3 separate regions of the Homo sapiens genome follow, and regions 1 and 2 are each linked to region 3. The links come from fine-mapping of genetic effects on gene expression. A gene starts in region 3. Each other region holds a variant in brackets. All regions are shown on one strand. Distances are from middle to middle. Region 1 overlaps ABCC8 (ATP binding cassette subfamily C member 8). Region 2 overlaps ABCC8 (ATP binding cassette subfamily C member 8). Region 3 holds the start of ABCC8 (ATP binding cassette subfamily C member 8).

Region 1 (7,582 bases), 55 kb before region 3:
CTCAAGCGATCCTCCAGCTTTGGCCTCCTAAAGTGCTGGGATTACTGGCAGTGAGCCACCGTGCTCAGCCAGTATTGTCTCTTTATAAAGCTCAAAATAACCATATGAAGGAGGTTTATTCTGATCGCCCTCACTTTACAGATAAAGAAAGTGAGGCTCAGAGAAAGGCTAAGTAACTTGCCCAAAGTCACACAGCTAGTAAGTAGCGGAGAAAATAGCTCCGACTCCAACGTTCATACTCTTAAATGCCATGGTACATTACTCCCCTGTGATTTCCCATGCCATAACTCTGATAAATGCCCCTTGTCAGGAGAACCAGGATGGACGAAATCAAGGATGGAAATGAGCCTGATGAAATCCCCCTCCTGCTGAGGGTCAGGACTGAATGAAGATTCTGATGGGTATGTAGTCCCCAGTCCCCTCTTTTCCTGTTCTCTAATCTTCGTGGTCTCATTTCATTCTCTTAACCAAACTTCATATTCCCTAACCATCAGATGGCTGTAATTTACAATTTATAGACAAGCTGGTAACATGAGACATAGAAACCTAAAGCTTACAAATTCCAGCTCTGTGGCCACAGCCCAGATAAGCTTATCTCTGGAGTCTTCCTGATGTGACTACTTCCAGAGTAGCAGAGGTGGTTATTGATGCATCTGTGGCATTCCTGAGGACCCCAGCACACAGTAAGCTCTCCAGGCCCTAACTCAGTTTGCAACATGGTCTGCACTGCTCAATTAGCCCTCATAATGGACTGCCTTCCTCTCTGATCAGCTCCCGTGTAATTTGTTCATCCCCAGTGGAATTTTAAGGCAGGAAGAACATCTTTTTCAGCCCCCATGGTGCTTAGCACATGACAGAGCTATATAATGAATGGAGGCTGGTAACAGATATATTAATCATTTGGAAAGAAGAAAGGGCGGGGCTGGCTCTCATTGCTGACCTTCACTGTGCACTGTGAGAAGTTGTTTGCAAACAACTCATCATCTCATCCTTACAACCCTATAAACCCTATCCCCATTTTACACATGAGGATACTGAGACTCAGAGTTTGCAAATGTGACAGAGCTGGGAAGAGGGGAAGCTGGGGTGTGAATCCAAGTTCTTCTCTTTCCAGTGTAGCCCCAAGCCTCCTCCAGTGAGCCTCCCCAAACTTTGTATCTGTTTTAAGCTGAAAAGTAAAGAATGGTATGTCTGGCAGGCACCATCTCTCACTCATTGCTGTGGTCTTTACAAGAGTGCTGAGGGGATTCGATTCCTCCTCTGCCTGCACTCTAGGGAGGAAGCACACAGCTGAAAGCATGAGTCTTCCAGTTCCCCAACCGCATGTCCTTCCCTCCAGCCCACTAGGAGCTGGCATATGTGTGGCAACCTGAATCAGGGTGCAGAGGCTGCCTTCCAGGGGCTCACACTCTGGTAGGGCAAATCAGAAAGGTACCGAAGTCAGGAAGTTATAAGGGTCAAAAGAAAAGTAGGACAAAGTATCGGAGAACTTTTGGGGAAAAGTAAACACAAATGCATATGCAAATGCATAAAGAAAAACTGGAAGCTTCTGGGTGATGGGATATTAGGTGGTTTTTATCTTCTGTATGCTTGTGTATCTTTTCTAATGTAATGTGCATTCTTTTAGAATCAGAGAAAAAACATAATTTTTACAAGAAATTTGGAGGAGGAAGAAATCTGAGAAAATGAGTAGAGCCTCATAGAAGAAGTCATAGCTGAACTGAACCTTAAAGAGTGGGAAGGATTGAGACGGTGGAGGTGAAGGGAGGGAACTGCAGGTTAAAGGAAGAGGCAGCATATGATAACAGGTGCGAGAAGTAGGAAAAATATGGGCTCTGACATTTGAATCCCAGAGGCTTTTCCACTCATTGGCTGTGAAATCTGAGGCAAGCTCCTTTACTTGGAGGAGCCTCTGTTTCCTGATCTATAAAATGGGGGTGAAGGCACAAACCTCACAGTGACACTGGAGAATGTATTACAGCTCACAGCTGGTTAGGGGGCAGGTTGTAGGCTTGGAGAACTAGGAGGAATTGTCTTTTCAGCTCAGTGCTTGGCCCCAAAAGTACAGGCAGAGGGAGAATCAGATACCCCCAACACTCATTTAAGACCCCGGCAATAAATAAAAAGGGAAGAAGTGGAAACTGAGGTTCAAAGAGTGAGCTAGGATATACAGGGCTCCACAGCCCATTCATCCTGCCCAGACAGGCTTGTCGCTGTCCTGAAAGGTTACCTTTCACCCACAGCATCCTTTCCAATTGATGTCATTGGGTCCCATTGCCAAATCTCTGAGACAGGAAAGGTAGGGTTTTACTCATTGTCCAGACAGTGAGTCTGTCTCAGAGAGGTGAAGTAACCTGCTCAAGGTCACAGAGCTAGCAAGTGGCAGCATCAGGACTACAGCCAGGGGCCATCTGGTTCCCATGGCTGGACAGTCACTTCCTCAGAGCATCCCTTCTCCTGTCTGTCAGCTGTCTCACCACACCTGCCTCCTCCAGGAAACCCAGGGGCACTTGAGCCCCTGACTTCAGCTCCCCAAAGGCTCCAGGAATTGTACAGGCAGATGCGACCAGGGCCGTCCTGAGAGAAGCCTTTTTCTCTCTTCCTGGGGAATCAGGGCTCTTGGCAGGCAGCATCCACACCAACCACCACAGGCAACAGCATTGCAGCAGGGAGCTCCAGTGAGACTGCATGTGCAGCTCCTCACAGGGAAGTGGGAGCCTCTTCCCCACGCTGATCCTTTCCTCAGGGCCCTGGTTCCTGCTGACCCCCCGGGGGCATTTAAAGTCACTCTACTGTGGATATTAATGGCTCTATTCTTTATTTCCAGGGAAAGAATTTCACCCGAGTGTATCTGCTAATCTTGACTTTTTACCAAAACATTTTCCTCTTAAGGATTAAAGAGAGAGTTTGCAAATCCCAAGGTTGTCACAGTTCCTTGAAGCAGAGAGCCAGGGAGGGGCAAGTGATTCTTCCTAAAGTGAATGCTTGGGAACCACACAGTTCTCTCTGAGACCAGGAGCCAGGCTGCTGACGTGAGGGACAAGCTCGGGGCTGCATCTGCAGGACTTCAGCAGATGGACCCTTTGTGCCCACCCTGCAGCTCTGTCTGCACACCTCTGTCCATCCTGGGTGGGTGAGCTCCCCAAGGGCAGGTGCTAGGCCTTTTCCTTTGTAGCCTACACAGAACAGTGCACAAAATACACATCTGCATGGGGCACCTGGGGTACAACATGGAATAATCCCTCAAGGAGCTCAGAGTCATGGAGGAGACAGACGCATTAGCAAATAATTATAATACCATGTGAGGTATGCACTAACGGTATTTGCTCATTCCAAATATTGATGGAGAAGAGGGGTAGTGAAATACTGGGTTAGGAAACAGCTCGGACAAAGGCATGTGGAAAGGAGAGAGATGTCAAGATGCATTATAATGGCAGCCTCTTGAAGGTCTTAAGTTGTTCCTGGTTCATTCATTTAGCAAGTGAATTCGTTTAGCAAAAAGCACTACGGATACAGTGAGACAAACAAAATATGGTCCCTGTCCCCAGGGAGCTCACAAGAATCTTTCCCAGGAGACAGACTGGAGGACATTTAAAGAGGAACAGGTGAATTTTGTTCCTGGCAAAGAAGTACACTATTGAATAATAATATTTATAGGATATTTACTACATGCTAGGTTAATCCTCACATCAATCTCATGGGTAATAAGGGAAACTGGTAGAGAAAGCTTATGAAATTTTCCAAAGCACAGAGACCAAATGTGAACCCAGGCAGCTTGGCTGCAGAGCCTGTGTGTGCAGCCATACTGCTCACGTGGTCACTGGAGGAATAAACGAATAGTTGCACCAACAAAGCACCCATCTCCCCAGAGCATTCTCCATTCTACACCTCCTAATCCCCCAACTTCCTGCCTTGTGCCTCCTGGAACTCCTTCTGGCTGCCTGGTCACCAGGTCTTGGCCTGGGTATGGCTGAAAAGCATCTGAGCAGCAGCCTGGCATCACCCTCTCCTCTGGCTGCAGGCGTGCAGACTTGGGAATGCTTGCCAGGTCAGAGGCTGTTTTGCTTTTAGCTCACTTTGCAAGCACGTCTTCTCCCTGCAGACCTGGGGCTCAATGTCTGAGGTGTGGAGTTCCTGCCAGTAATGGAGGGGGACTCTCAACACACAGCCCCCACACTTAACTCAATGCCCAGGATAGGTGGGCCAGCCAGAGCAGTGCACATGTCTAGATTTTGAGAGACAAACAGCAGATGAAGCTAATTGAGTCGTATCTGCCTAGACTCCTTCTCCTAGCCACTATAAGGAGCTGCAGACTGACCTTCCTTCCTGGAGTCTGTCTGTCTTTTCTTTTTCTCTCTCCCCAGTCCATCATCCTTTGTCATAAGCATGATCCTTCTGCAGCATTTGGGCTAAAACTTACTTCCTAGAGGTAAGCACTGTATCCATAGTGCTTTTGCTAAATGAATTCATTTGCGAAATGAGTGAACCAAAAACAACTTAAGATCTTCAAGAGGCTGCCATTAGAATGCATCTTGACATCTCTCATTTCCCCATGCATTTGCCCAAGCTGTTTCCTAACCCAGTACCTACCTCTCTTCT[T/C]GATCAATACTTGGAATGAGTGAATATTAATGCACACCTCACACTGTGTTATGATTATTTGCTAATACCTCCCTTCCTACAGTCTGTCTGTCTTTTTCTCTGTTTCCCCAATCCATCATCCTTTATCACAAGCATGGTTCTTTTGCAACCTTTGGGTTAAATCTTACTTCTCAGACCTACTACATGGGATCTAAGCCAAGTTCACTTCTTCAGTCCCATCTTTCATAATGCACCCCATGCATCCAGTGTTCCAGGTGCACAGAACTATGTTCTTTAATATCAGCAAGGCTTTGCCCACACCATCACCCCTGCCTGGACCACCTCCCTTTCCCATCCCTGCCTTTTCTACTTGATGAAACCACACTCATCCTTCAAGGCTCAAATACCACATCCGCAGTGAGCCTCCTCTCCTTGACTGCAGAGTCAATTGTGGTTCCTCTGAGCTCTTCTAAGGCCCAGGTCTTCTCTCCCCTCTCTTAAAAGCGGGGCCGGCCAGGGGTGGTGGCTCATGCCTGTAATCCCAGCACTTTGGGAGGCTGAGGCGGGCGGATCATGAGGTCAGGAGTTCGAGATTACCCTGGCCAACATAGTGAAACCCCGTCTCTACTAAAAATACAAAAAATTAGCCGGCATGGTGGTGTACACCTGTAGTCCCAGCTACTTGGGAGGCTGAAGCAGGAGAATCGCTTGAACCTAGGAGGCAGAGCTTGTGAGGAGCTGAGATCGCACCACTGCACTCCAGCCTGGGCAACAGGGCGAGACTCCGTCTCAAAAAAAAAAAAAAAAAAAAAAAGCAGGGGCCACGTCTTAGTCACCTTTGCACTCCTGTTGCTGTCACAGGGTCTAGTATACACTAGGCGCTCAACTGGGTGAGTGAATACGTCACTGTGGACGCTGGAGAATGAGTTGACTTGGGAACAAATTCTCATGATTTCCCAGGGTTGGCTGCAAGCTAACAAATGCACTTCACTATGCTTGAAAGGGAAGCTGGACCAGGACCGGGCGAGAGAGCAAAGAGGATCCTGGAGAAATGAGACCCCTTCACTACCGCCCCTCTGCGAGCCTCGAACAGAGCTGGGAGCTGGGGCCTAGGCTACCTGTAAAGGAGAGTAAGTGTTGATAAGGACAGAGCTGTGAGGACCCACGTGGCAGTTCTGGGAGGAGGCAGGTGTGTGTGAGTCATGGCCACAGCGGCTGCTGGCCTTTGGACTGTCAGGCTAGCTATGCCTTCTTCATGAGGCTCTTGTGCCCCTTCTCTTTGAGCACATGGTGGCAAACCAATGCACTTGAGCACCTAGGTGCAAATCCCACTTCTGCCATTTAACAGCTGGGTGGCCTTGGACAACTTGCTTCACCTCAGTTTCCTAATCTGATAAATGAGGATATAATAATATCTACTGCACAGAGTTCGGTGCAGACTGACTGAGATGATGAGGTGCCTGCACAGTGCCTGGCCTATAATAAGTGCTTAGGCAGGAACAGAAAACCAACCACCACATGTGCTCACTATAAGTGGGAGTTGAACAATGAGAACACGTGGACACAGGGAGGGGAACATCACATACCGAGCCTGTCGGGGGGTGGGAGGCAAGAGGAGGGAGAGCATTAGGACAAATACCTAATACATGTGGGGCTTAAAAAGATGACAGGTTGATAGGTGCAGCAAAGCACCATGGCACATGTATAGCTATGTAACAAACCTGCACACTCTGCACATGTATCTCAGAACCTAAAATAAAATAAAAAATAATAAAAAAAAGAAGTGCTTAGGGTCCTCTGCCTTGGAGAGGCTCCTTGTGTTCCCTGGGCTGGGGCAGAGGTTTCCTAAGAGAGAGGGGCAGCAGTCAGACCCGGAGGGTTGGCACAGCTTGGAGAAGAGGTGGGGACTGAGGCAGGGCAGAGCAGACCCCTGCCAATCATGCCTGCTTCATCTACATAGGACAAGGAGAGCTCCTGAGGCAGGCACGATGCCACATGAGGGCATGAGGGTGGGGGAGGAGAAGAAAGCAGGGCAAAGGGACCAGGTTCAGAGTGGGTTTTGACATCCATGCTGAGCAGGTCAAGGCAGGGGCAGCTCCAGTGTCTGAGCCCTGCAATCCTTCTGGAAAAGCCCTGCCTTGGAGGAGAGCCCAGATCCAGCCTGACCACTACATGGGGCTTGGACAATAACCCTTAGGACTAGGCCCTGGGGGCCCCAGCAGTGACCAGGTTTGAGGGAAAGAACATGGGCAGAGTCTCTGCTCCACACACTGACTAGTAAGTCACCCAACTTCTCTGAGCCTGAGTTTCTGCTTCTGTGAAATGGGGTAACAACACTCCCCTCCTAAACTTAGTAGGAGGCTTGATGAGATCATGTTGACAATGCACTTAGCAAAGGGCATGGCCCATAGGAGGTACCCAATAAATATTGGTTACTTTCTTCAGCTCACAGTGCACTGGGGACTCTTGTCTTCTTGCTGCAGGCATGCAGTTGGACAGCAGAAAAGGGCTCCTCCCTCCAAAGGCTGGAGAGGCAGTCGGAATAAGGCAATATGATCTCAAACCGAATACCTGGGCCTTCCCAGTCAGGCTATGTTGAAAAATCTCCCAAATAAAATGGCGAATGGAGGCAAAGACCCCTCTGCCCCCAAAGACATCACAGTCCCTGATGGGAGGTGATGGGAAACCCAAGGGGCTCATCTGCTAGCCCACGACCCCACTGAGGAGGGAAATTTGCCATCTTTTGGATACACCATTCAGGGACATCTTGGAAATGCAGGAAACGGGGGTGCATGTTGATATTCAGACATTGGGCCCAAAGTCTTTCTCCCTGCTCAGTTCTGTACTCATGCTTATGAAAAACCTGACACCTTCAATAATTTTCCCCTAGAAATGATTGGTAGGGAAAGCTTGCCCTTCTGCTGATTGGCTGCAACTTTTATTCCTAAATGAATACTCCAAAGCCCAGAGATCCCTTTTTCCCTTGGCTACCAGAGGGCACAGA
Region 2 (7,582 bases), 45 kb before region 3:
ATGAGCCCAGGCTCCTTGTGGTCCCAAGAAACACCATCCTGGGTCCCACCTCCAACCCACCTCCATACTTTGCTCATGGCTGCCTCTGCCAGAAAATCCTCCTGCCTCATGGCCTCAGGGCCTTTGTCCATTCTCAGAAACCCCATCACTTCCACTTGCGTTCCTTGGCTACCCACTTCTGATCTTTTTGTGCATTACCTATACTGTCTGCAATGGATGGTTTGACATTAAGGCTGGCAATTTTACCCTGTCCTTAGTGCTTCACTCCCACCCAGCACACGGAAGCCTCTAGAATGTAGCCTTCCCCTTCTATAATATACCCAGGGCATACACCAAGAATGAGCAGAGAGTAGGTGCTCAATAAATGCAGCTTTGTCTTTTTATCTCTATGTTATTCAGTGGGACATGGGGAGGGGCATGCTGGAGGGGTGGACTGGGCCATACCTCGGGGGATACGAATGGTGATGTTGGACAGTGTGGGGATTCCATCTGGGGTCCACGTGAAGTAGCCTCCCATGATCTTCATTAGGCGTGTCCCACCGCCCAGGAGAGAACAGAAAGGCAGCCAGTTCCCAGTGAATAGTCTCTGGCTTCCCCTCCTCCATGAAAGCCAAAAGACACTGATTCCAGCCCCTGGATCACTTCCAGAGCAGGGGAGTGGGAGACTGGCCTTCTCATGCTGACCCTTGCCTAAGGCTGGGGGTCCCCCCACTTGGTGGTCCCTGGTTTCTGGACTCCTATGGACCGTACAGGCAGGCAGGGTGACCTCTGCAGAGGACTAAGCATGCAGCTTTCTGGCTTTCCAGGTGCTGAGCTCCCTCTGGGAGTTGGTGCTGGGTGGCCAGGCATGGGGCAGCAGGACTCACCTGGACACAGCAGTTGTCAGCATCGCCATCTGCACTGGGGACCAGGCTCTGCAGTGGGCCGGTGAGGCCCCGACAATCCTCCCGGGCTGGACGCTTGCGGTTCACAACCCTGAGGGGCTGGGGGTGGTTTGGAGGTGAGGACCCACTGGGCTGGGAGCTGTGTAGGGAAGGGAGCCCCTCTTCCTGGGAAAAAAGGCAGAAGTCCGACACAGCAGGCCCAAGTTTTGGGCCTTAGAGGACCATGCTGGGAGTAGCAAGGGGAGGCCGGGCACTCACCACCGCCTGGTACTTGCTGGCTGGGCCCTGAGGTGTGGGCTCATGGGGGGCACACTGCTCCTCACGGATCTCTGCACTGGACAGGAACTCGCTTAGCTTTTGCACGCTGCTCGGGAAGCACAGAGACACCCCTCACCCCTGCCAGGGGCAGAGGGGAGGGGAGAGGGCGCAGCCTGATAGAGAGCTCTGAGCAGGATCTCAGGCCTGAAGTATAGTCCCACAAAGCCCACACTGAAGGGGGCAGACCAGTGGGCATGGGGGCAGGTAATTGGTGTTACCAGGGTTTGCTAGGGTTGACCAGTCAGCTGGAATAGGCTGGGGTCTGGATTGGAGGTGAGATTGGTTAGTTTTAGGGTTAATGTTGAAGTTAGTTAGTCTGGGTTATTAGACTGAAGGATGGTTGGTGTTGGATTGGTCAGGGTTAAGGTTAGTTAGGACTAGGATTGGTAAAGAATCAATAGCTAGTATTTTGTGAGCATACACTAAATGCCAGACACTGTGTTAACTGTTTTGTAGCATTATGTAATCGGATCCCCATAACAGCCTGCTGGAGGAGGTGTCATTACTCACGGGGGAGGCGGCTATTCCTACCCTCTCCCCTGTCCAGATTTCCCTGTGGACCTGAGGAAGCACTGGAAGCTTCACTCTTCTAGTTCATTCTCTCCCATCCTGGAGGTGTGAAAGCTTTCTGGGAAGCTCAGGATTGTTTGTATTCCCCTTTCTTCTCTTTTGCTAAATGTCCAACAGGCCTGGGGCAGACAAGCCATCCCACCCTCAAGGCAAGGTTATTCTGGGGTGTAAGTGAGCTGTGGCCTGGAGTCTCCCTTTCTGTGCGCCACCCCTAGATGGGAGGGGCAGACCACCAGGCTCTGCCTTCATGCCCTGTCCAGCCTCCCTCCCCCACAGGCGGTGACTGGGAAGAGTGGAGCTGGCCCTCATCTCTTGGGGTGAAGCTTCAGGTAGTGTCCTGCGCCCACCTTCAGCCAGAGCCTGAGCTGCCTCACTGAAAAGGCCTCTGCTACTCTGGTGTTCCATTCCTGGAAACAGTGGGATCCAGAGTGTTTGAAAATATGAACGCTTTGGGATCAGTGCAACAGTTTTCAGGCAGGTGCAGCGTTCTTAAATCTGTGGTTTCTACACAGAATCATAGGGCTGGAGAGTGGGTGGTGGGAGGAGGGGTGATCTTCAGACCCCACAACACCCTGGTCAAGAAACTGAGTCAGCACAGCCGACTGTGGAAATGGGAGCTAATCCCTGTTTAACCAGCTACTGCCTGGTCAGATACTCCTTAGAGCATAATTTTGCTGAGTTATGCCCCATTCCATCTTTGAACCCATGCTAGAGTCTCCCCCTGCAAGCTACCCTCTCTATCAGCTACTTCATTCCAACAGCTACTCCTTCCTTCCAGCTTCCCAGTACCTGCCAGGGTCCCATGAGACAGGGGTGTCACCTTCCTCAAGGCTGAAGACACAGAGGACATTTGTTACTGACTGGTTCTCTGGCCATGGGTAAGGACAAGCCAGCCCTCCATAGAGGCATGACAGGCTCTTGCTTTCAAGGAGGCAGAGCTACTTCAGAGGCCCAAGGACATCTTCTCACTCCAGACAGGGCATTTCCCAGCCAAAGCCTCAGCCTTCTACCTTCAGGCTTTCATTCCCAAGAGGGCAATGCCTCTGGGACAGTGGCAGAGTCCCCATGAGGCTCTAGAGCCTGGAAGTGGGAGCCTCCAAGAGCTGTGGGCCAATCAGAGCAGGACCCAGCGCTTGGGGGAAGCTGTTTCACTGGCTGAGGCTGTGAGGGCTCAGGGGCTGTGGAAAGGGTAGGGGATACTTGGCCTGGGAAAGATAGACACAGTGGATGCCTTCTGATATCCATGGGGCAGCCACGTGGGGA[C/A]GGGATGGCCTCATTCTTGGTGGCTCTGGAGGGTGAAGTTAGGACCAGTGGGTAGAATTTAGGAGGATTCCACATTTGGCTCAACACTGGTTTTTTTTTTTTTTTAAGTTGTCGTGAAAGTGACAGTGAGTCCCCTCTCCTGGGAGGTATGTAAGCAAGTCCTTGCTCAGGGATGGCGAGCTGGGAAACCATACAGGCCAATGTCCCTCTGACCAACCAGGACCAGCTACAGCAAGGCCCAGCAATGGGGGTGTGTTCCGGGACCAAACAGCTGTGGTTTGGCCATCACTCGAGCAAGCCTTGAGGCTGACACAGGACCTGCCTGCCCAGTGCCCTCGCCCGGACCCTCCCCTCACCTCACTAGAGCTTTGACGGTAGATCGGACCACACTGGACAGCAGGAACAGCGGTGTGACCAAGATATGGAAGAGGGAGAGGGAGGCAAAGGCCACGGAGGGCGAGAAGTCGGCCTCTTTGAAGAAGCTGACGTGGCCCACGAAAGTCTGTGGACAGAGGCACAAGTGAGGCCAGGGTGGCCCAGGGTGTGGGTCCCTCCCACACTGGAAACGCTCAGCACTGGAAGGGAAATGAGAGGGCTGTCAGGGAGCAGGCTCCTAAGAGGATCTTTTAGTTGGAGACACCTTCATCATCCCCACAGTCATCTCATGGAAACGTCCCCAACAAGTTCAGGACTTCAAGCTGGAGAGCAGGGGCTGCTCCCTCCCTGTCCTGGCCAAGACTCCCTGTCCTGCCCAGTCTTGGCTGGGAATAAGCAGGGAGGAGATCTCGGGTTAGGTCAGCACGGCCCCCTCTGCAGACAGCAGGCGGGGTGCTCATCTCCCCAGTCCTCATCGGGATAACGTAAACAGAGTGATTACGAAACTGCACAGTGCTTTGCCCCAGCCACCTGGCTGGCTCAGTGGCCTCTGTTACCCACAGTTCCCCCAGGAGCCAGGCCAGGAACCAGCTCAATACATCACATTGGAAGTGAATTCCCAAGTGTATCCGACAGGCTGTGAACTCTACACAGCTCAGGGACACTGGCCCCGGGGGAAATAAGCAGATCTTTTTAAGGAACTGCAGCCATCACAGAAGATGGGGATGGGAGGCTGGGTGAGGGGGCTGCAGGCTCGTAGGGGCCCAGGCCTTTCTGTAGGAGCATGCTGCTTGACCCCCATGGCTCAGCTCACACACAGCTTTTATCAAAATTGCTTTAGAAAGCCACCATCATAATATTCAGTGGCATGGAGAATTGTGTGTGGCATATTCCTAAATTTAAAAGAGCAGGTTGCAAAACTGCATGCATAGCACATTCCTATTTTTGTAGAAAATGACATATCATAGGCCTTAAAAAAAGACTGGAAAGAAACACATTAAAAATGTTACCAGTGGGATTATGGGTGATTTTAATTCTCTTTGAGCTTTCTGTTCTGGATTTCCCATCACTTCTACAATACACATGTTTCACTTTAAAAATTAAAAATTTGGATAGCTATTTTTTAAAAGAAAGTTTAATTTCTCTAAATACTAAGCCTCCGGTCTTCCAGGCCTGGAGGCAGAGGCCCCTGTTCGGCTGGAGTTGGGGAGGGGCCACACCCTCTATAAACTTTCGATCCTATTTTCAGTCTGGCTGTGGAGCCTGTCTTCTGAGGCCCCTGTGCAGAAAGGCCAAATCTGGGCAGCCTGTCACTGCAGACGCCCTCCCCCTCCACCCTACCCCCAAGAGATGGAGAAAGGATCCACTTACTATGAGGACAGCTGCAATGGGGATGGCCGTGTTCATGAAAACTGCAGAGGAAGCACAGGGAGGCGTTTAGTGGGAGGAGCGTGACAGCTACACATGGAGATGCCCAGGATGGCTTGGAGGCAGCGCAGTCCAGTGGGGCCAGCCTGTGGGGCACAGCTCCAGTAGGCTAGGGGCAGAACTCTAGCCCTGTGGCACTTCCAGTTCCTCACCCCATTTCCCTCAGGACTCTTGTCCCAGGTACCCCGGCCCCCGACTCTGGGGCTTAAACTGTTAAGTCACTCCGTGTGGACAGGGTGAAGTTAGCCCCACGGGAAAGTGGTGGGAGAAGGATGGGAGAGTTGGCTGGCTGTGGCCAACTGTGAGGTCAGGAGCACGTGTTTCTGGGGGCACAAAGCTGCCACTTCTTCCTCTGCCTTTGGCTCCTGTGTCCCCCCAAGCCAGGCTCTCTATGAAGCTTAGAGACTTCCTAGTCTCCCATGGCTCTTGAGAAAATTTCAAACTCATTCTCACTGAGGTATTAGTAACTAAGGACAGCTTAAAGCAGGATGTCCCTTAGAGTCTGTGTGCGGGTGGGGTAGCTGGTTTGCTGCAACAGAGGCCTCCTCCTTATTCTGTTAAACATGTGGCCTTTAGATCAGTCACAGGGACTCCAGGAAGAAAAGACAGTGGGACTTGGTGTGACAGAAGGGCAGAATCCCTGCTACTTATAAGCTGTGTAACCTAGGGCATGTCATTTACCTTCCCCGTGCCTCAGTTTCCTCATATGATTTTTGTAAACTTATAAATACTTGTTCATACACCCCAGCTCTTTCCAAGGTCAGAGGAGATAACATGGGTAACAGGCTCTGTGAGCCCCAGGTGCTGCCTACACATCATACCTCATGGGCTACTAGCTTAGCCCTGCTCCACAGGTCACCCCTCCTCTGGCCTAGGGTGTAAAATGCTCAACAGTGCCCTGACCCCAGGCCTAAATTTCCAGAGAGAGCAGCCCCCCCATGGCATAAGAGGTAACCATGTCAGCTGCCACCTTCCCATCTATCCTCTTTCATTCAAGGATCCCCTTCCAGGGCAGCCCAGAAAGGAGTCTGGTTCTGCCATTAGCCAAATTAAAGCAGAGGGACCAGGAGTCAGGAGCCAGAAGCCAGAGGCCAGGGCTCTGCCTGTGCACATGGCCCCTGTCTAATGAATGGCAAAGTCTTGGACACTCTGATGAAGTCCAGATGGTCAATACCAGTCCAAGAAGTTGACTGCCCATTTACTCCAAGAATCCTGCAGCAGTCAGTACATACAAAGCATTGTACATCAGAGATGTGGTCCCCAACTTCAGGGAATCCCAAGTGGGTGGAAGGACATGGCCTCTGCCCTTAGGGGATTCCCAGTCTGAGGACGGAGACAGGAGCTATGCTCCCAGGAAGTTCCAGATACAATGGGGAGACAGAGTACATGCCCCTTAGGAGTTCTCAAGCAGGTGGGAAGGACATTGTCCCCATCCTCGGGGAATTCCTAATCTGATGGGGAAGGCAAGGCTCCTGCAATTGGAGAGGTCCCAGTCTCCTGGAGGATGTATGGCTGGAGCCCTCGTATGGCTGGGGCCCTGGCAGATGGCGAATTTCTCTGCCCGTGAGGCTTTTAATCAATACCAACATCATACATGCCTGTGCTTTAACTGCCCTTCCTCATGAAGGCTAGATGGTTTCCAGGGCCCACTACCATGCCACAGCCCTCCTGCACCGTTTCCGGCAGGAAACAGCGTAAGTATTATTGGTGTTCCCACAGCAAAAGGGACCCAGATCTAGGACATACGACATAGTGCAGCCATTACTGGCTGAGGAGGAGAGGGAGGAGGATGCCCATCAGACCTAGGACCTTGACCATCACCAACTACATAGTTCTAAATGTGAGGTAGCCTCGCCCCTCCCCTATGGGGTCAGTCACTCCAAGGAGCAACTGGGAGGGCAGGGGCCTCTATTCTGCTCCTCCTGGCCCATCCCCATAAATAACCAATAAGGAGGGGTCCTGTGCACCCATCCCTCAGCCCCTGCTCCAGGCCAAGACCCCTCCTTCACATTCTGGGGCTTGACTCCCAGCCAAAAAATAGGCTGAGTGTTGGATTATAAATTGCTACAACGCTCTTGGAAAGCAATCTGGTGCTTTGTAGCTAGAGCCACACAGAAGTTCAGACCTTCTGATCCTATAATCCGTCTCCAGGAAATTTATCCTGAGTAATCATTCAAGAGCAGCGCAAAGCCATCAGCAAGATGGTATTAGCTGCAGCTAACACAAAATTCAATAAAACAAAACCACAACCACAGCAACAGCAACAAACCATCCCAAACGAAATAAACTGGAAATGTCCAACAAGAGGGGCTGTTGTAGTAAATGATGGTGCATCAGCCGTGGGGGAGATTTTGCAGTCAGAAAACGTGATAATTGACACTTCATTCTACTGCACATTTTCCCTGGTCATGGTTTTTTTAATTTAATTTTTTTCAATTTTATTGTCTTTATTTTTGTAGCTCCCTGAACTCCTTTGAGGAATGAGACAAGCTATAAATAAATTTAAAAATGAACATCCCAAAGCTGATGCAGCAACATGGAGTATGCTTCTGATATAATTAGCTTCTGCCCAGTTCTGGCTGTTGTATGGAGACGCTAAAGAATGAAAATGTGATTTTCCACTTCTTTCACCCTCCCCTTGAAGGACAGCCTTTGTGCAGGGAGTTCTGGGTCCCCTTCAGGGCTGGGGCTGGGAGAGTAGAATCATCAGCTGCGTGTGTTCGCGTGTGTGTGTGTGTGTGTGT
Region 3 (7,582 bases):
TGCCCCTCACTCAGGCCTGGGGGTAGGAGCTCACAAAGACCAGATGACAATTACTCAGCTTGAGCTGATCTGTGCCCTGGGGAGGAGATGGCCCTTTGCACTGAGCTGAAGCAGTACAGCCACACACAGGAGGGGCTGCTGACAGCCAGCAGGAGGGCATCCCTGGACCGATTCATTCCAGTTTCCCACATTCTGGGAATACACAGTCTACCCAGTGCTCTGCCACTCCGGGCTCTGCACCCTGTCCATGCTCGAATTTCACCCTCCACAGCCCCATGAAGCAGGCAAGCCAGGGACTATGATGCTTGTTTCATAAGGCCAGAGAGCAGTCATGAATGGCCACACTGGGAACAGCCAACACCCTGCCCAGGGATCTTCAAAACTCTTGCCTCTTTACTCCTTGAAATAATTTTGAAACACCTTATACTTTCTCACACATTTTTAAGTTGGCAACTAAAATGTTTTATCGTATGTTTATAAATGCTTATGAGGCCCAGAAAGCCTGAATGACTTGTGCAAAGTCCCATAGCTGGTACACAGCAGCAGTGCTCACTGAAGACCCAGGTCTTCCTTCTCCAAGGGCGGAGGTGTCTTTCTCTGTCACCATCTGGTGAGTATTTCCCATCTGAGGGCTCACTGTGGCATTTGTGCTACTTTGGAAGGGGTGTAGGGGTGGGGGTGGAGGCGGACTTGTCACGTGCTTGTGTAGCAGTATGCCTTCTGGTCTTCTTGCTGGTCTAGGGACTTTAATAAGCAGGCAGAGCTGCTGCCTCCAAGTCAAGCAGGTATTTTAGAGATCACTGCTGAAGCCAGGATGCAGGGACATTGGGGAAGGGAAGGTGGGGAACGGGAGGGAGGATGAGGGAGCCTATCCCCTGCCATCCAACTACAGGAGCCAGGCAGCACTGCAGGAGTGCAGTCTGGGTATAATCTGATTCCAGCTCAGGGGGCGCTGGACCTCAGATACTCAAGCCAAATATCCCTCTCCTCCACCACTCCCTCTCCTGGCAGTCTCTCATCCTTGCTGGTTACTGGATTCTTCCTTAGTGAGATGGCTGCTCCCGCTCCTCTTCTGTCCCTGACTGCTGACACACCATTTCTGTCTGCAGTTATTGCTCACCTAGACTACTGCAGTCAATGCTAAGTCCTGCTTCTATTATACCTCTAGATTCTCCCTGCCTCCAGCCTGCGCTGAACACCTCAGGTTCCCACCTAAAAGTGTTATGCTGATGACATCTCTCTTCTGTTCCAAACTGCTGACCAAATCCGACCCAAACATGCAGGCTGGGATTCACAGTCCTCCTGAGATGCCCCAACCTGGGTTCCCAGCCTCAGCCTCCATCGCTCCCCAGCCTGTGTTTAATGCTCCAGCCCCTGCGCTGCTCCCTAGCCCTACCTGCTTTTCTCTTTGGTGCCTTTTCCCTTCCCTCAGGCACCACCAGTTCTCTCTCTCCTTCCTCCTCTGTGTGTCTGAAGCCTAGTCACCCTTCCAGACTCCGCTCCAAAGCCCTCTCAACCATGGAGCTTGCCCAATTCTGCCTTCCTCTCACCTCCCAGAGTACTTATTTGTAACATGGTTTCATTCATTCTCCTAAGGACCCAATAAATGTTTATGGACTGAATAATGTTTATGTTTATCACATGCCTTGCACTGTGAACACAAAGATGAACAAGACTCAGATTCTAACTCTTAGGCCTTTCTGACTCTGAAGACAGTTTTGCAAATAGACATAAACTTTAACATACAGTGTGATCTGTGCTGTAGCAGAGGTGTGAGGAGTGTGCTGTGAGGCCCAAACGGAAGGTGGGCATGGGGAATGAGGCCAGAGATAGGTGGGGCTGACTGTGAAGACCTTGAATGGTGGGCTGAGGATCTGAGACCACATCTTCAAAACAGCTGAGAACCAAGGAAAGGTCTTATGCAAGAGTGGGTGGCATGGTTAGATTTTTTTTTTTTTCCAAGAAGGTAACTCCGGCAGGTTGTAGAAGAGGCCAGACATTTTTCACTGGAGTTGTGGCATTCTAATAGGCTCTAGCATTATTTCACTGGGACTTGGCATGCAGGTCCGTGTTCCCTCTGCTCTCCTGGACTGATGGCAGGGCCTGGGACTCACTTGCGTCCAGTGCCCAGCTCAGAGAGGTTGGCACATAGAAGACACTGAGCTGCTGGATGTAGTAACAAAAGACATGGGCTTGTGGAATATAGGTGAGCTAGGATCTCCTTGGGCCTTTCAGGAAGTACCCTGGAGCAGATTCACTTTCCTGAGTCCTCAGACAGTCACTCACCCATCAGACAGGATGCCCTCTGCAATCTCACACACCAGGACGAAGAGCAGCATGAAGGTCAGGATCCACCGCAGGTTGTGCCCAGGGAAATGAAGCCATGTGCTGTGGTGGATGTGCACCTTGGAGCTCTGACTTCCCCATCCTGCAGGGAGAGACAGTCAGAGGCAGGATGCCTGCCCACTTGGAGGAGGAAGAGGGTGCATGAACCCCAGAAAGGTGCTTGGGCATTGGGTCCATGGTGAGGGTGACACCTACACATGAGGATCCCCAAGGCTGGTACACACAAACTAAACGTCCAACTCATTCAGCCTGGTCCTATGCTGGTACCTCCCCCACCACACCTTTTTACTGAGACAGGGTCTTGCTCTGTTGCCTCTGCTGGAGTGCAGTGCCACGATCACGGCTCACTACAGCCTTGATCTCCTAGGCTCAAGTGATCCTCCCGCCTCAGCCTCCTGAGTAGCTGGGACTACAGGCGCACATCACCATGCTCAGCTAATTTTTAATTTTTTGTAGAAAGGGCGGGGGGGGTCTCACTATGTTGCCCAGGCTGGTCTCGAACTCCTGGACTCAAGCAGTCTTCCTGTCACAGCCCACCAAAATGCTGAGATTACAGATGTAAGCCACTGTGCCCTGCCAAGGTACCCCATTATACATACTAACTTCTTGTGTGACAAGTCATCAGGTTAATAAACCGTTTGGCTGAGAACAGAAGTGTAAATGCTGTTCTTTTTTGATTTTTGATGCACATATGAGCACATATTTTGTATGTTTTATTTCTATTTCTATCTAACTGTCTTTGTTAATAACTAGCAACTCTGCTTCTGCAGCAACCTCTTGTAAATCTAATTTTGTGACAATCTTTCCTTTCTTCCCCAAAGCTGTATATGAATTTTAAGATTTGCTTGTTTTCTTAAAGTGAATGAACACGTTTTGGGGATGCAGGGGACACCCTATGAGTTGATAGACTTGACTGGTCTGGAAGAGTCAAGGTCTTGGAGAGAGATGGGGGGGACCTCAGTGGAGAGGCACGCACGATTGTCCCGGCCGTGGCGCCCAACTTTGCAAGCAAGGGCGCCGGGGTCGCTGCGTCGGCGAGTCGGAGCTACTTTGCGCAGAGCCTGAGAAGTTGCGCTCTGGAGACACATGCCCGGGTGGGGTGGCGGGGGAAGGGAATCCAAGTCCCTAGCTCTCGCCTCTCCTCGCCCAGGGCGCGGGCCTGGGACTGTCAGAGATCACGGACCACTGCGCGGCTCAGCCCGGTGAAAGCATAGGGGTTAGCTGGGCCTCCATCCCAGACTCCAAAGCACAGGCTTCCCTCTTCCCTAGGCCCAGCTGCGGCTGACAGGGAGGCTGCCTTGCGGGAGGGGTGACCCGGCTCCCTAAGCTGCGCCACGGAGGGTGAGGCCCGACCCCTCTCCAGTTTCCCACTGCGTGCTGAGACCTCCTCTTTCCCTTTTCCCCATCCCAGCTCTTGGCCCTGCAGAAGCAAAACTTGGTGATCCCATGGGTCACAAACGTCCGCTGTGTTTGGCGCGGGATCGGGGGCACCGGGGGAGTGAAGGGATGAGCTGGTGTGCGAGTGCGGGGACCGGCGGGCAGGACACAGGGCAGGGGACCCCGGGAACGAGGCGGACGGCGGTCGCGGGCCGGAAGGGGACGCCGAGCGGTGCGGCGCGCAGCGCCTCCTCCTCCCTCCCTGCTCTCCCGTCCCCTCCTCCGCGGCTCGCTGCGCGCACTCACCAATGAAGAGGATGGGGAAGGTGATGAAGAGTAGGAAGACGTGCGGCACCACGTTGAGCGCGTCCACAAAGCAGCCGTTGTTGAGGACCCCCTGGTCCACCCGGTAGGCGGCCGAGTGGTTCTCGCTGCCGCAGAAGGCCAGGGGCATGGCGGCGCGGGCGCGGGCTGGGCTCGGGCTCAGCTGGCTCCGCTGGCTCCGCGCGCCTGCCGCGCCTCTGTCCCTTGCAGCTCCGCCGCCCGGCCCGGCCGTCAGGCCCCCGCCCCCCGGGCCCCGCCCAGCCCCGCTGGCCTCCCCCTCCCTCACCCCGCCCTGCTCCACCACCTGCGGGGCCGGGGGGCGGCGAGGAACCCGACCGGCCCTGCTACGCTTGCGCCCACCTTCCAGATGTGGAGGCGCGTGCTCCCAGATGTTGCCGGGGTGGCTTCGTGAGTGCCCTGATGCACGCGTGCGCTGGGGGAGAGGGGAAAGGCAGGCTAAGATGGGGAGTGGGGTGTGGGCACACTGGAGTCTGGGTGGGAAAGGAGGGTGGGGCGTGCAGAAGAGGAGAGAAGGGCCCGCAAGGCCTGGAGTGGGCGGGTTCAGGGTCCCGAGTGTGAGTTCACCTGGGCGTGGTGCGGATGGATGTAGAGAGCCGAGGGATGGCGCAAGTCTCCACCCAACATGGATGAGAAAAGTGGGGCAGAACGTTACCTTGTGGTGGTGGTGGTGGTGGGGTGGGGCTTGGACATTTTCAAAAGTGGTCCCAGGTGGGGCACTCCTAGGTACTGCTTTACAGCGTATCTGGCACTTTCACACAAGGGATGTCCCAGAACTCTTGCTAAGTACAGGTTCTAATCGCTTCCAATTTTCTGATGGGGAAACCCAAGCTGCGAGGGAGCTGAAGGGAGGCCAGTAACATGACTTCCCCCAAGGTCTCAGTGCCAGCAAGCAGGGAAGCATAGCTTGAACCCAGCTCCTCAGGTCCCCCGTCCCCACCCCCATCATTTGTACTCATGCCTCTGGTACATGACAACCTTACAGCGACTGGCAGACCAATGGGTAGAATGGGTGACAGCCCCAGGCTGATAAAGAGGAGTTTAAGAAACGCATCTGGCCAGATGGATGTGAGGCAGTGGAGAGGGACTGAAATTCTTAACCTCACCTGGGACAGGCTTAACAGTTGGAGGACACCGTGCAATTGTAAAGACAACATTATGTCTTCCTATACGTTTTGGAGAGATTCTCACAAGACTGTGGCCCAAAGAAGTTTATATTGTATGTAGAAAGAACAGAAGATGGGATTTGGGGGTTAGATTTAAGGAGAACTTTCCTAGTTAGGGTATGAAGCATAAATGCACATGTTCTTAGGAACAGTCAGGGGAACACAAAAGAAAGACCCCTTCAGCCCCTTTGCCTACAAGCTTCACTGAGCCTGCCCTGAGGCTGCTGAGCCTGGTGAGCCTCTCCAGCACGCTGTCAGCAAGGCCGAGGCTCTGCCCAGGCCCTGAGGCAGAGGGCAGATGGGGTTGGGTGAAAAGCCTTGGGAAAGCAGGAGTTCAGGGTCTGAATGCCTCAGTCTCTGACTTTGGAGAATTTCTCAGAAGCCAAAAGATGTTTCTTGCAGCATCAGCCAAAATAGTGAAAACTTGGTGGCAAGAAATATCCAGCACCAGGGACAGGGGTTAATCAACCTTGAAAAATGCAACTGCTGGGACGGTGCTAGCTGAGTCTGTGTAGTCAATAGAAAAACTTTACAAGATAGTGTCAGGTGAAAAACGGCAAACAAAATTGTGCTTCCCATGATTATAGCCGTACGAAATATGTATACTTGCATGAAGCCTGCAGGGAAAGGTCAGACTTGGAAATTTGGTAAGGCGGTGCTCAGTATGTACTGGCTGCCGTCGCTGTGCTTATCCTCATTCCCTTTCTTTAAAAATGAGACAACTGAGGTTCAGAGAGATGAGATGACAGGTCCATGGTCACCCAGTAAGATTTTTTCTTTTAGTTTGTTTTTCTTGCTTTCAAGGTTTTTTTTTTTCATATTTTCTGCAATGTTGTTATTTTCTTTTGTAGTTACAATTTCAGTTTTTTCACACTTTCAGCAATGCTATCTTTCTTTTTAGCAGTAATAATATATTTACTTTTAAAGAACAGGGCTCCTAGTCCTGGCTCTACTACTACTAGTTGTGTGATTTGGGGGCAGGTTACCATTCTGCACTTCAGTTTCCTTATTTCTAAATGGAAAAGATAATAATATGGAACCCAGAAGATTAAGATGAGATCATGGGTATGAATGTGCTTTGCAAGTTGGGGAGATAGTCCAAGCTACTTCATCCCATGGGTGACTACACACGGCAGCCCCTTGATCAATCAGGGTTATTTAATGGTCTCTCCCTCACCCCACATTGCCTGGTGCAACCCTCACACTTGCCTATTCTGGGTCATTTGAAACAAACAAAAAGTCTGGTGTTAAGGGAGCATCAACTGGGACTAAGAGAGTGTTAAGTCTGGAGTCTTGGGGACTCGTGTTTGCCATCTCTAGCACAAACTTACTGTGTGACTGTGGACAAATTCCACCTTTCCCTGCACCTAGGTCTACACTGAGGACATGCACCACACTGCCCACCATGTGGGTGGGAGAATTACTTTGAAAAAGTGTGGAGTCAGGTGCGCACGGAGGCATGAAAGGACTTCCTTTGTAGTATATGGGTTGTATTCCTGGAATCAACCCAAATGCTCATCAGTATGGGGCTGGTTCAAACAGACAAAACCCAAACAGACAAAAAACAGATATTGTCTGTACTGTGGGATACTGTGGAGCAAGCGCAGAGAATAGAGTTATGCTTACTGGCAGGGGAAGATGTCCAAGACACAGACGCAGAGCGGTGTGTGGCATACAAAATCATTCATGTCTGTAACAGGGCTACGTCTGCCTCTGTCGGGGAGATGCTGGGTCTCTGGTGCTTCCCCACCTCTAGCCATGCCTTTTGTTTCTCTTGCTAGGGGCTGGAAGAAGGTCAGACTCTGAGAGCTTGCTTTGAGCAAGGGTACCCCGCTCTGAGAATTCCCAGCCATTCTCCTGGCAAAATGAAAACTAGGGCTGGATTTCCGGGATTGGATTCTCACACTCACCGGCTACTGGGTGGGTGTGGCCTCAGGCAGGGTGCAGTAAAGGGGCTGGTGCAGAGCTTCAGAAAAGTCCTTTCCAGATCCCTTGAGCCAGGGAGGTTAAGGCTGCCGTGAGCCATGATCGGGCCACTGCACTCCAGCCTGGGCGACAGAGAGAGACCCTGTCTCAAAACAAAACAAAACAAAACAAACAAACAAAAAGTCCCTTCCAGCTCTGATGTTGTTCTGGCCTTAGTGCCTTTGTCTCTATCTGGCTGACTAGGAGTGCCAGTGTTCCAGTGACCATGGCAGAGGGGGTCATTACAATGACAATGGTGACGTAATGGAGTGGGGTTATAGTTGAAGAAATAAACCCTTTCAATAACCACAATCAACAGCGGCCTGGTTAAAAACAGACAAAAGCAAAACTCATGGTGTGACCTATACTATGGAATAGTGGAGAAC

The links.
Region 1: its variant is fine-mapped to the expression of ABCC8 in thyroid (GTEx, PIP 0.96).
Region 2: its variant is fine-mapped to the expression of ABCC8 in tibial nerve (GTEx, PIP above 0.99). The same link has a PIP of 0.9 or more in amygdala and nucleus accumbens.

Annotation. Positions count from the first base shown.
Region 1 is chr11:17,417,988-17,425,569 of GRCh38, forward strand. All of the region lies in intron 16 of ABCC8 (ATP binding cassette subfamily C member 8), which reads right to left. Among named protein-coding and RNA genes, the nearest start is that of KCNJ11, 33 kb to the left of the region's middle. The variant T/C (reference allele first, on the strand shown) is at 4,600.
Region 2 is chr11:17,427,423-17,435,004 of GRCh38, forward strand. It overlaps ABCC8 (ATP binding cassette subfamily C member 8), which reads right to left. Exons shown (of 39, transcript NM_000352.6): 11 at 4,782-4,822; 12 at 3,392-3,537; 13 at 1,143-1,248; 14 at 867-983; 15 at 445-520. Among named protein-coding and RNA genes, the nearest start is that of KCNJ11, 43 kb to the left of the region's middle. The variant C/A (reference allele first, on the strand shown) is at 3,036.
Region 3 is chr11:17,472,600-17,480,181 of GRCh38, forward strand. ABCC8 (ATP binding cassette subfamily C member 8) reads right to left here and starts at 4,246. Exons shown (of 39, transcript NM_000352.6): 1 at 4,030-4,246; 2 at 2,287-2,428. The coding sequence starts at 4,177. LOC124902641 (a long non-coding RNA gene) reads left to right here and starts at 4,052. Exons shown (of 2, transcript XR_007062609.1): 1 at 4,052-4,132. RefSeq lists an enhancer at 2,902-3,458.